Regions from separate parts of the Homo sapiens genome. Here region 1 is linked to region 2. Evidence: fine-mapped expression QTL. A gene starts in region 2. The other region holds a variant in brackets. All regions are shown on one strand. Distances are from middle to middle. Region 1 overlaps OLFM2 (olfactomedin 2). Region 2 holds the start of OLFM2 (olfactomedin 2).

Evidence for each region. PIP is the estimated chance that this variant, and not a neighbour inherited with it, causes the effect.
Region 1: its variant is fine-mapped to the expression of OLFM2 in whole blood (TOPMed, PIP above 0.99).

Annotation. Positions count from the first base shown.
Region 1 is chr19:9,851,042-9,856,412 of GRCh38, forward strand. It overlaps OLFM2 (olfactomedin 2), which reads right to left. Exons shown (of 6, transcript NM_058164.4): 6 at 2,677-3,822. The coding sequence ends at 3,145. Among named protein-coding and RNA genes, the nearest start is that of PIN1, 18 kb to the left of the region's middle. The variant G/T (reference allele first, on the strand shown) is at 2,655.
Region 2 is chr19:9,933,401-9,938,771 of GRCh38, forward strand. OLFM2 (olfactomedin 2) reads right to left here and starts at 3,115. Exons shown (of 6, transcript NM_058164.4): 1 at 2,904-3,115. The coding sequence starts at 2,966. RefSeq lists enhancers at 2,371-2,965, 3,632-4,134.

The DNA of each region.
Region 1 (5,371 bases), 82 kb before region 2:
CTCACCTCCCACCCACCCCCTCACCCCCTCCTGTCTAGAACCAGGGCATAAATCCCAGGCCTTTAGGATGGTGACAGTGTAGTCTTCCCTAGTGCCACTTACAGGCACCTCCCAGGCCAGACCCGCCCCAGGGGGTCAGTCTCTACGTGCCCCTGGCTTCTGTGGCCGCTGGGCAGAGCTGGAGCAGGTCACCTTGGGGTAAACGGTATTACTGCCCCAGGACAGGAGTTGGCTTCGCTGTGCCCACGTCCATGATGAGAGGGGAAGTCAGTGAGTTAGCAGTGGATAGCCGAAGACGCACACAGATTGATCCTGGCCTGGGAAATGTTAGTCTGCCTGCCCATCCTTGTTTGTAACAAAAGCCACAAACTCAAAAGGAGCTCTGAGCGTGTGTGTGTGTGTGTGTGTGTGTGTGTGTGTGTGTGTGATCTCTCTGAGGACCTGATACAGATGTGATGGACACACCCACACCCAGCCCTAATCTCGGTGTGAGGATGTGGCTCCCCAGCACTCAGCATAGTGTGGACACAGATTGTGGACCTCAGCAGCCTCAATTCTCCACCTTACTTTAGGAGAATCCAGTATCTAAGGCCGATAAACTACCTCGTCCCCTCACTGTGGAGACTCTCTGCCTCCAAATAAATGTGAGTTGGGGGGGATACAGATGTTCTAGGTGTCCTGGCTTTGTGCTGCTTTTCATTTCTTCAGCAGGTACAGGGTAAAGTGCCTCTCCACATGCTAATCCGGGAATTAATCCTTTTTCCGATGTCAAACATATTCGCTTAAATGGAAATTAATTGCTTTTCTTGAGGATTTCTCTAAAAATTGGTTTTAAATGAGTACATTAGGCAGTCCCATTTATTATTCGTTGGTTTCGTTCCCAATATGGCCCCGGTATCCGAGTTCCCGGAGATGCCAGCACGGAGCGGAGATGATTTAATCAGGGTAACCATTAATTAGAGATGAGGAGAGCCTCCCCCAGGAGGAGTGGGAGTGCCCCCTTTGTGGCCTCAGCAGGGTGGCGGTCTGGGCCAATAGGGCTCTTTAAATGATTGTTTCTGCTCTGGATTCAATAGGGACCAACCACTGGGGTCAACATGGGGCAGGATCACCTGGGCAGCACCCCCTACCTTCATTCTTGGTCCCTCAGCCCCAAGGGTGACGCTCCTCACCTTTCTTGTACCCCTTCCAACTAGCCTGGCTGCACCCCTTAGGTCTGCCTCATGCAGGCCTTCAGACAGGCCTGGCTCGTATAAAGCCCTCATCTGGTTCTTCCCCTTCTGTGACTTCCCTTCCCCTGCCTTTAGCCAGATCTCTAAGGCTGCTGAGGACTTAGCGTCTCCTTTTTTATTTTTTAGATTGAGACAAGGTCTCACTCTGTGGCCCAGGCTGCAATGCAGTGGCACTCATGGTTCATGGCAGCCTCGAACTCTTGGGTTCAAGAGATCCTCCCACCTCAGCCTCCCGAGTAGCTGGGACTATAGGCGCACGCCACCATGCCTGGCTAATTTTGTAAAATTTTTTTAGAGACGAGGTCTTGCTATGTTGCCCAGGCTGGTCTTGAACTCCTGGGCTCAAGCAGTCCTTCCCCCTCAGTCTCCCAAAGTGCTGAGATTACAGGCATGAGCTGCTGCATCCAGCCTACTCCTAGTTCAGTCCCTTCCTGTCTCCCTCATACTCTTCTTTCCTGCCTCCAAAACTTCTTGTCTTTTCCTCTCCTTCCCCTCCAAGAATTCTGGTCCCCCATCAAGGGCTGTCCCTGCCCAATCCCTCCTGCAGGCAAACAGGCTCCAGGTGTGAGGTATGAGTGTGTTCAATTGAAGGCACCTGAGTGCCCCTTTAAAAGGCTGTTTCTAGCTTTTTTGGGATTAGTTTACTCGGCACAAATGTGACTTGTCTAAAAACGATTTTTGAAATTACAAAGCAACAAGAGAAAAAAGAAAATGGAAAAATTCAGCTGGGCCCTACTCTTTCATACTCAGCTTCTTAAAAGCCAGCTCGATTGTTAAAAACCCATTAAAAAATTGCCAGACTGGCCGGGCTCAGTGGCTCACGCCTGTAATCCCAGCAGTTTGGAAGGCCGAGGGGAGCGGATCACTTGAGCCCAGGAGTTCAAGACCACCCTGGACAACATGGCAAAACCCCCATCTCTACTAAAAACACAAAAATTAGCCTGGCATGGTGGTGCGTGCCTGTAATCCCAGCTACTCGGAAGGCTCAGGCACGCGAATCGTGTGAACCTGGGAGGTGGAGGTTGCAGTGAGCTGAGATCATGCCACTGCACTCCAGCGTGGGTGACAGAGCAAGACTGTCTCAAAAAAAAAAAAAAGAAAAAAAAAATTCCAGACCTCTTAGTAATGCATCAACAGTGATTGCAGAGTGGCAATCCAGTGACGGGAGAATACTCATTTGAGGCCAGTTTTCATTGCTGTGCTAGAATTCTCGGTTGTTTTGATCAAACTGCTTTTAAACGAATTGCTTTCGATCAAAACAACTTTGGATTGGGTCTCCTCACCCATCTCCCCAAAGGGCTGGCCCTGGGGAACCCCTTCCCCCCAGTTCGCTTAAGCTTGAGTCATGGAATAAGGGGATCCTCACTGGAGATGGGTCTCCAGGCTTGGACTTCGGGGCCACCTCCACCTCTGTCGCCATTG[G/T]ACACACACAGTCACCGAAGCGTCAAATGTCAAAGGTCCTGTTTATTCCGGCAAACCGGAAAGAAAAAGTGTAAATAAAAAAAGAAACAGATCCATGCACTCAACTCCTGGGGGTGGGGGTGGGGGTGGGAGTGAGGGATGAGGAATGGGTGGGAAGCAAGGAGGGAGGGGTGGAAGGACAGAGAGAGAGAGACAGAGAGAGGCAGAGACGGAAAGAACTGGAGAACCAGAGCCATAAAAAGAAAAAGACATCCATAAAAAGGCAGAAAGAAAGAAGTGGTGTATTAAAAGCAGAGATCAATAAAGGAGAAGAGGGGAAATTGAAAAAATAGACAGAAATACATAGGCAGAGAACAAAAGCCCAGCAAAAAGGCGGGGAGAAAGGGCGTGACAGAGACAGAGAGATCACCCTTGAGGGACACAGGCAGAATGAAAAGGGCCCCCAGCCCCCAGAGGCCCCCCAGGCAGCAGCCCGAGCCACAGCATTGGCTCAGGGGTCCCCAGAGGTGCTGATGACGTGAAACAGGGTGACATTGTAGAGCACCTGGTGGCCGTTGTTCCAGGTATAGAGGGCGCGCTCCCGGGGGTTGTAATCCAGCATCGAGATGTGGGAATACTGGTTGTGGAAGGGCACGTCCGTGTACTCGTAACTGGACGTGTTGGTAAAATAGGCGAAGTAGACCTTGGCCCCAGCCAGGTGGGAGTTGGTCACGTAGAGCACACCGCAGATCATGAAGGCCTCGCCAGCGCTGCGCTTGGGGTAGCCGGTGTCCCAGGACCGCATGACCTCGAGGGTGTGCGGGTCCAGCCGGCTGACCACGATGTTGCCCGCGTTCTGGTTGGTGGTGTACACAGCCCAGAGCCCGCTCTCGTCCACCATGAAGTCCATGTCGGAGAAGCCGCCCCAGGAGTAGGGGAAGGTGTTGTTGTAACCGGCGCCCGGGAGGCTCCTCTGCACCAGCACAGAGCGCGAGCGGAAGTGGTATTTGACCACCACGTTGCTCTGGTACTTGTTATAGAACAGGGAGCCGTTGTACACCACGTGGCCCGTGCCCGCCCACGGCTGGGGCAGCAGGTGCTGGATAAAGTTCTGGCCTTTGATGAAGTCTCCCAGGGTACGGAACTCCAGGACCCGGCGGCCTTTGTAATAGCCATCCATGTACCAGACCTATGGTAGCAGCCGCTGGTCACTGGGGGGAACCACCACCAACGACCCAAGGGTCCCAGCACCAGCTACAGCCATTAGAGTTCAACAGTCACTAAGTGGTCATTAGTCATGGGAACTCTGTTGACCATTCATTACCAATTATGGCCCTAGTGTGACCATGATCATCTCCTGGTGACAGCATTAACCATGGGCAGTGAATTCAAGTGACGTCTTATCACTCAATGGCTGTCCAGTGACCACTAACCACCCAATATCCAATGACCAGGGAATTCCTGGGCCCAGTGAGTCCCCAGGGGCTGCAGTTTCTTGGGGAACTGCATGGCCCCAGTAGGACCCAAATCCCAGTGAGTGCTATTGGTCTTTTTTTTTTTTAAGTAATTTTTTTTTTTTTTTTTGAGATGGAGTCCCTCTCTGTTGCCCAGGCTGGAGTACAGTGGCGTGATCTCAGCTCACTGCAACCTCCGCCTCCCAGGTTCAAGTGATTCTCCTGCCTCAGCCTCCTGAGTAGCTGGGATTACAGGCGCATCCCACCACACCCGGCTAATTTTTGTATTTTTAGTAGAGATGGGGTTTCACCATGTTGGTCAGGCTGGTCTCAAACTCCCGACCTTGTGATCCACTGTCTCAGCCTCCCAAAGTGCTGGGATTACAGGCATGAGCCACCACGCCTGGCCTTTTTTTTTCTTTTGAAACAAAGTCTCACTGTTTTTCCCAGGCTGGCGGGCAGTGGCACAATCACGGCTCACTGCAGCCTCGACCTCCCAGGCTCAAGCAATCCTCTCACCTCAGCCCCCCGGAATAGCAGGGACTACAGGCACAAGTCACCACGCCCAGCTTATTTATTGTATCTTTAGTAGAGACAAGGTCTCGCAATGTTGCCCAGGCTAGTCTCAAACTCCTGAGCTCAAGTGATCTGCCTGCCTCGGCCTCCTAAAGTGCTGGGATTACAGGCGTGAGCCACTGCACCTGGCCACTATTGATCTTAAAACAGACCCTAAGTGGACAATGCTCCATCCCAAAGGACCCAGGGAACTGCAGCCCCTGGGGAGTCACTGGGCCCAGGAATTCCCTGGTCATTGAATATTGGGTGGTTAGTGGTCACTGGACAGCCATTGAATGATAAGACATCACTTGAATTCACTGCCATGGTTAACTAACCCCTGTCACCATGAGGTGACCAGGCGTGTCATCAACATCATTGTTGTCATCATGTTAACTAGCATTTGTTGTTGTTTTTGTTTTGTTTTGTTTTGAGACAGAGTTTCACTCGTGTTGCCCAGGCTGCAGTGCAATGGTGCGATCTTGGCTCACTGCAACCTCTGCCTCCAGGGTTCAAGTGATTCTCCTGCCTCAGCCTCCCGAGTAGCTGGGATTACAGGCATGCACCACCATGTCCGGCTAATTTTGTATTTTTAGTAGAGACAGGGTTTCTCCATGTTGGTCAGGCTGGTCTCGAACTCCCGACCTCAGGTGATCCGCCCACCTCAGCCTCCCAAAGTGCTGGGATTACAGGCATGAGCCACCATGCCCAGCCTCATGGATGGTTCTT
Region 2 (5,371 bases):
TAATTTTTTGCATTTTTAGTAGAGACGGGGTTTCACCATGTTGGCCGGGCTGGTCTCAAACTCCTGACCTCAAGTGATCCACTCACCCTGGCCTCCCAAAGTGCTGGGATTACAGGCGTGAGCCTCCATGCCCGACTGCTATCACTCTAATCTTTTTTTTTTTTTTTTTTTTTTGAGACAGAGTTTCACTCTTGTTGTCCAGGCTGGAGTGCAATGGCGATCGCAGCTCACCGCAACCTCTGCCTCCCAGGTTCAAGCAATTCTCCTGCCTCAGCCTCCCTAGTAGCTGGGATTACAGGCGCCTGCCACCACACCCAGCTAATTTTTTGTATTTTTAGTAGAGACAGGGTTTCACTATGTTGGCCAGGCTGGTCTCGAACTCCTGACCTCAGGCGATCCACTTGCCTCAACTTCCCAAAATGCTGGGATTACAGGCGTGAGCCACAGCACCCGGCTCCAGTCTAATCTTCTATACTTTATCTGTTATTCTTCATGCTACTTGCATTGTATTATATGTATATTTAGTTGCCGACACCGTATTACATGGTTATTCGGCTCTTTTCTGTCTCCTCTGCTAGGTCAACTCCAGGAGAGCAGGGATTTGATGACTCAGTTGGTGGCTGTATCCCCAGTGCATAATCATATCTGTTCATTGAATGGATTAACCAATGATTTCTAGGAAGGACCCCTGGGCCCATCAGGGACAGGGAAGAAGTCTTTGGAAAGTGATGGAGGGAGCGAAGAGTGGGTAGAGCATCCTCTCTGCAGACCCCTCCCTTCCCTGGGGTGCCAGGCTTGGTGGGCCAACGCCAAGGGGGTGTATGGGGCGCCGAGACTGTTTCACAACCATGTAGTTCCCGCGGTGGCCGCCTGGAGGCACTGCAGCCCGCGGCAGGATTCCACCAGCCCCGCCCTAACGGATTACCTCATTTGGCCACGCCCCCGTTGTCCTTTAGCCCCGCCTCCACTGACCTCGTTAGTCCCGCCCCCAAAGCAACTCCCTCCCAGCCCTGGGGGCTGTAGGAGTCACCCTCCAATTGCAATTCTGGCAGCAAACTCTGGCATCCTAGCCAATCTTGGTGAGAAGCCAGAAAATCTAGTGCCCCCCTAGCAGGGAGTGGAGGAGAAGCCACAGGGGGTGGTTCTCTGTCTCCTCTGCTAGGTCAAGGATAATTCAACTTGATTCCTGGCTCATTTTTTTTCCACTGGTTTCTCAAGTGTGTGCCTCTTTTGGTCTCTCGTCTCCCAGGTGTGTCTCTTGGCTTCTCTCAGGCTCACACATCCATTGAGTACCTATTGTGTGTGTCCTCATGCCTGGGGCTGGGCACACTCCCTATCCCACCCAGCGCGTGGGTGCTGAGATGCGTGGGGAAATGGAGGAGCGAGGGAGGGGACCCCACAATCTCTCCTCGTGGCCTGGAAATCCTTCTATCTGGAGTCTAACCTCCATTCCTCCCAACACCCCCCTCGGGGTGAGCACAAGGGTCTGATTCTTTTCTTGATAAGGGGAAGGTGCCCAAATTGTTTCTCCCCTGCCTATCTACCTAAAAGCCCACCTAGCAATGTCTTCACGGACGCTGTCCACACCCATGGAGCGGATTATTTAACAAGAGGGTAATCGTGTGGGCTCAGGAGCCGGACTGCCTCGGTTCAGTCCCACCTCTGTCACTCTCGAGCTTGAGCAAGTGATTTAACTTTTCTGCGCCTCAGTTTCCCCATCCATAAAATGAGGTAACAATACCATGCTCTAGTAGGGAGGAGGCAGAGGGGGTTAAATGCCTTAGTCTGTGCTGTGTGATTGAAACAGCACCTCTCAAATTAGCACGTAATGAATGATCACTGTTATCATAATGACTATTTTATTATTTTTGATCCCAGCTTCCCTGTGAACTCCTACAGATCTGAGAACTTGGGGGTGCTCTCACTCCCAAGATGGAGGAGGAGAGGGGCTTTCCAATAGCAAAAGAGAGCGTGGACGCCCCACATTTTGCAAGCCTCCCTGAGCCTGCCCAAGAGAAAGGTGCCATGGGGAGGGAGACCCGCTTCTGTAAGGGTATGAATGGCGTGTGCGGTTGTGAGCAAGGCACCAAGATACACACACACACGTGCATGGATGGACACGTTTGCACACACAGCGCTTGCACACACACACACCCTTTTAGAGTGATTTACCCAAAGGTACAGAATAGCACACGCTCACTCCAAGGCTCTCACACGGCCACACACCTGGCCACACACGTATTGTACAACACCCAGTCATCTGGAGCCAGTAATGAGGACACGGTCACACACAGACTCTGTCTCACGTACTGATCACACCCCAACTCGGGCACTAGTTGGACAAGCCCCCCAACCGCCACACACACAAACTCCCCCCGGTCACACCCAACCACGACACAAAGACACACACGTTTACCCTGCACCCCCACAGCATTTCACACGCGTCCCCGTCAGTCACTCTCACGTGAGTCCCGTCCCCTGCCCCACACTGGGGGCTGCAGGCGAGGAGTGGAGGGCTTCAGAAACTGGGCATCTCGGCCCCGAAGAGGAAGTCAAGGGTAAGCAACCGCCCCCCTCCAATGCCCCCTGAAGTTTCCCTCCCAACCCCATTCAGCTCCAGCGAGATGGCGGGGTGGGGGCTCGGGGCCATGGAGGGGTTGAGAACCCCAAAGACGCCACCCCCCAAACCAGCCCAGCTTGAGGCTGGATTTGAAGCCCCCCTCGTCCTCTCCCAAGCCAGAGAGTGCACGTCCCGGCCCCTCCCCCGCTGCGACCCCCGCCCCTCGCCGCCCTGCAGCTGGGGGGGCTTGTGGAGCCTCCCAACCCCGTTTCTCCGGGAACCCTCCGCGCCCCCCTCCTCTCCCGGAGCCACCCGCGCCCGCACCTGCCCGCCGGGCCCCTACCTGTCCGGCCAGGCCTGAGCACAGCAGCAGCAGCAGCGGCGGCGGGACCGTGAGCGGCCACATGACGCGCCCCTAGCCCGGCGTCCCGACCCCCGCCCGCCCTAGCGGCGCCTCGGCGCGGGGACCGCCACCAGGCGCGACCCCGCCCGCCCGGCCGGGGCGACCCTGCGCCGCCGCCTCCCCCGCCTCGCCGGCGGCCGGGATTCCGCCCCACCCCCGCCCCCTCGCTCGCTCCGAGTCTTTGTTGCGGGCTCCGCCCCCCGCCCCGCCCCCAGCTCCTCTTCGGGAGCAGCTCGAGCAGGGTCGGGTGGGGGGGTGGGGGCGGGGAAGTGGGGGAGCCAGCGCCGGCGAGGGGACCTGAGGACAGGACTTGGCAGCGCCCCCCAACCCCCAGGCCATTCCGGGAGCGGGTCGCGGAGGTGGGGGAGGGGTGCCCGTCACGTGTTTGTAAATTTCACCCTCCGGGGGCATTTCCCACGTTGCAGGTGGGACGGGGACGAATGGTTGGGGGAGAGGAATAGGAGGAAGGCCTGGTAGCAGAGAGGGGAAATGATGAACGCCCCCTCCCTAAAAACTCAAGAGTCAACAGGGAAACTGAGGCAGAATCTGAAATTGGAAGTTGGAGGAGGGGTCAATGCCAGGACAAGAGGGGTGAGGCATAGATGGAGACGGGGAATAAGAGGAAAAAATTGAGGTTGGGGGGACAGGAGACCGAGAATCAGGCAAGAGGCCAATGGAAATGGCCACGTGGGTGGGCTTGGCCTCAAAAAGGGGCGTCTCGTTTTCACTCTCCCCGGGCGCCCCATTTCCCCACCAGTCCTCCCGCTGGAAGCCTCCCCGCCTCCGCCACACCTGGAAGAGTTTCTCTTCGCTCCCTGTTTCAATAGCCCAAGATGAAAGACCACATCCCCCGAGAGAATCAAAATATTAACACCGCCTCCACGCGAAGCCATTTGCATATGAAGGGCGTCCTTGTCTAGCCTCACTTTCGGGAGGCTTTCCAGCCTTTCTCTGCCTCTCACTCCTCCAAAAGTCTCCCTAGGCCGGGCGCGGTGGCTCACGCCTGTAATTCCAGCAATTTGGGAGGCTGAGGAGGGTGGATCATCTGAGGTCAGGAGTTCAAGACCAGCCTGGCCAACATGGCAAAACCCCACCTCTACTAAAACATACAAAAATTAGCCGGGCGTGGTGGTGCATGCCTGGAATCCCAGCTACTCGGGAGGCTGAGACAGGAGAATCGCTTGAACCCGGGAGGCAGAGGTTGCAGTGAGCAGAGATCGTGCCATTGCACTCCAGCCTGGGCAACAGGAGCAAACCTTGTCTCAAAAAAAAAAAAAAAAAAAAAGTGTCCCTAGTCGTCTTTCCTCCCCACAGCCCCTCTAGGGATTCGGATATATGTAGGCAGAGGTGGAGGAGGGGGGCGGGCAAATAAGTCAGATTGGAAAGAAATCGGGCATAAAATATGCGAGGCCAGGAAGCCTGGCATTTTTGTGACCCTGATACTGTTGGGCTAGGAGGGGTCTCCCCAGACGCTGGTGGGGCCTCGACCCCAGCTGGTGTCCAGGCTCTTAACACCATCGCAAGAATGAATTCAAGGAGGAATCAGAAAATCATGAAAAGTTCGGAGATTTTTTTGTTAAGGGAAAAGTCCACACTTGAGAAAAGGGAGTGGGCGTACTTAAGAGAGAGAGATGGGCAAGGTGGTTTGGGACTGCTACCTTTATGTGTCTCTTTTTTTTTTTTTTTTTTTTTTTTTTTGAGACAAAGTCTCGCTCTGTCACCCAGGCTGGAGTGCAGTGGTGTGATCTCGGCTCACTGCAACCTCTGCCTCCCAGGTTCAAGCAATTCTCCTGCCTCAGCCTCCTGAGTAGCTGGGATTACAGGTGTGCGCCATCACAGCCGGCTAATTTTTTGTGTTTTTAGTAGAGACAGGGTTTCACCATATTGGCCAGCCTGGTCTCAAACTCCTGACCTCGTGATCCACCCGCCTTGGCCTCCCAAAGTGCTGAGATTACAGGCGTGAGCCACCACAACAGGCCACTGTGTATCTCTTTAACCAAGGGATGGAATATTCATGAAAACTGGAAAAAGGTGGACTGTGGTGCCACCCACTTTTACACCAAATTTGGGTGTCCCTGGAATTGTCAAGGGCGCTGGTGGGTGGGTAATTTTAGTATTTTAATGAGTACATAATGAGATCCTAGGTGAAACCTAGGTAGAATGTAACGCCATGTTGGGTCCAGTAGGTCTTAGCCAGCTTGGTCCACACCCTGGTTTTCAGGATCTTATCAGCCCATAGCCTCTAGTCATGTGAAACGGCTGCCTGTGACCACCCTGGATCATTCCTGTCTCAACCCTACTGGGGATAAAACATGTCGATGATGGTTTTGTCAGGTCAATGAGAAAGAGCTTGGTGACCCACAGATCTGGGTTCAACCCTGGTGCTGCCACTTCTTGGCCATGTGACC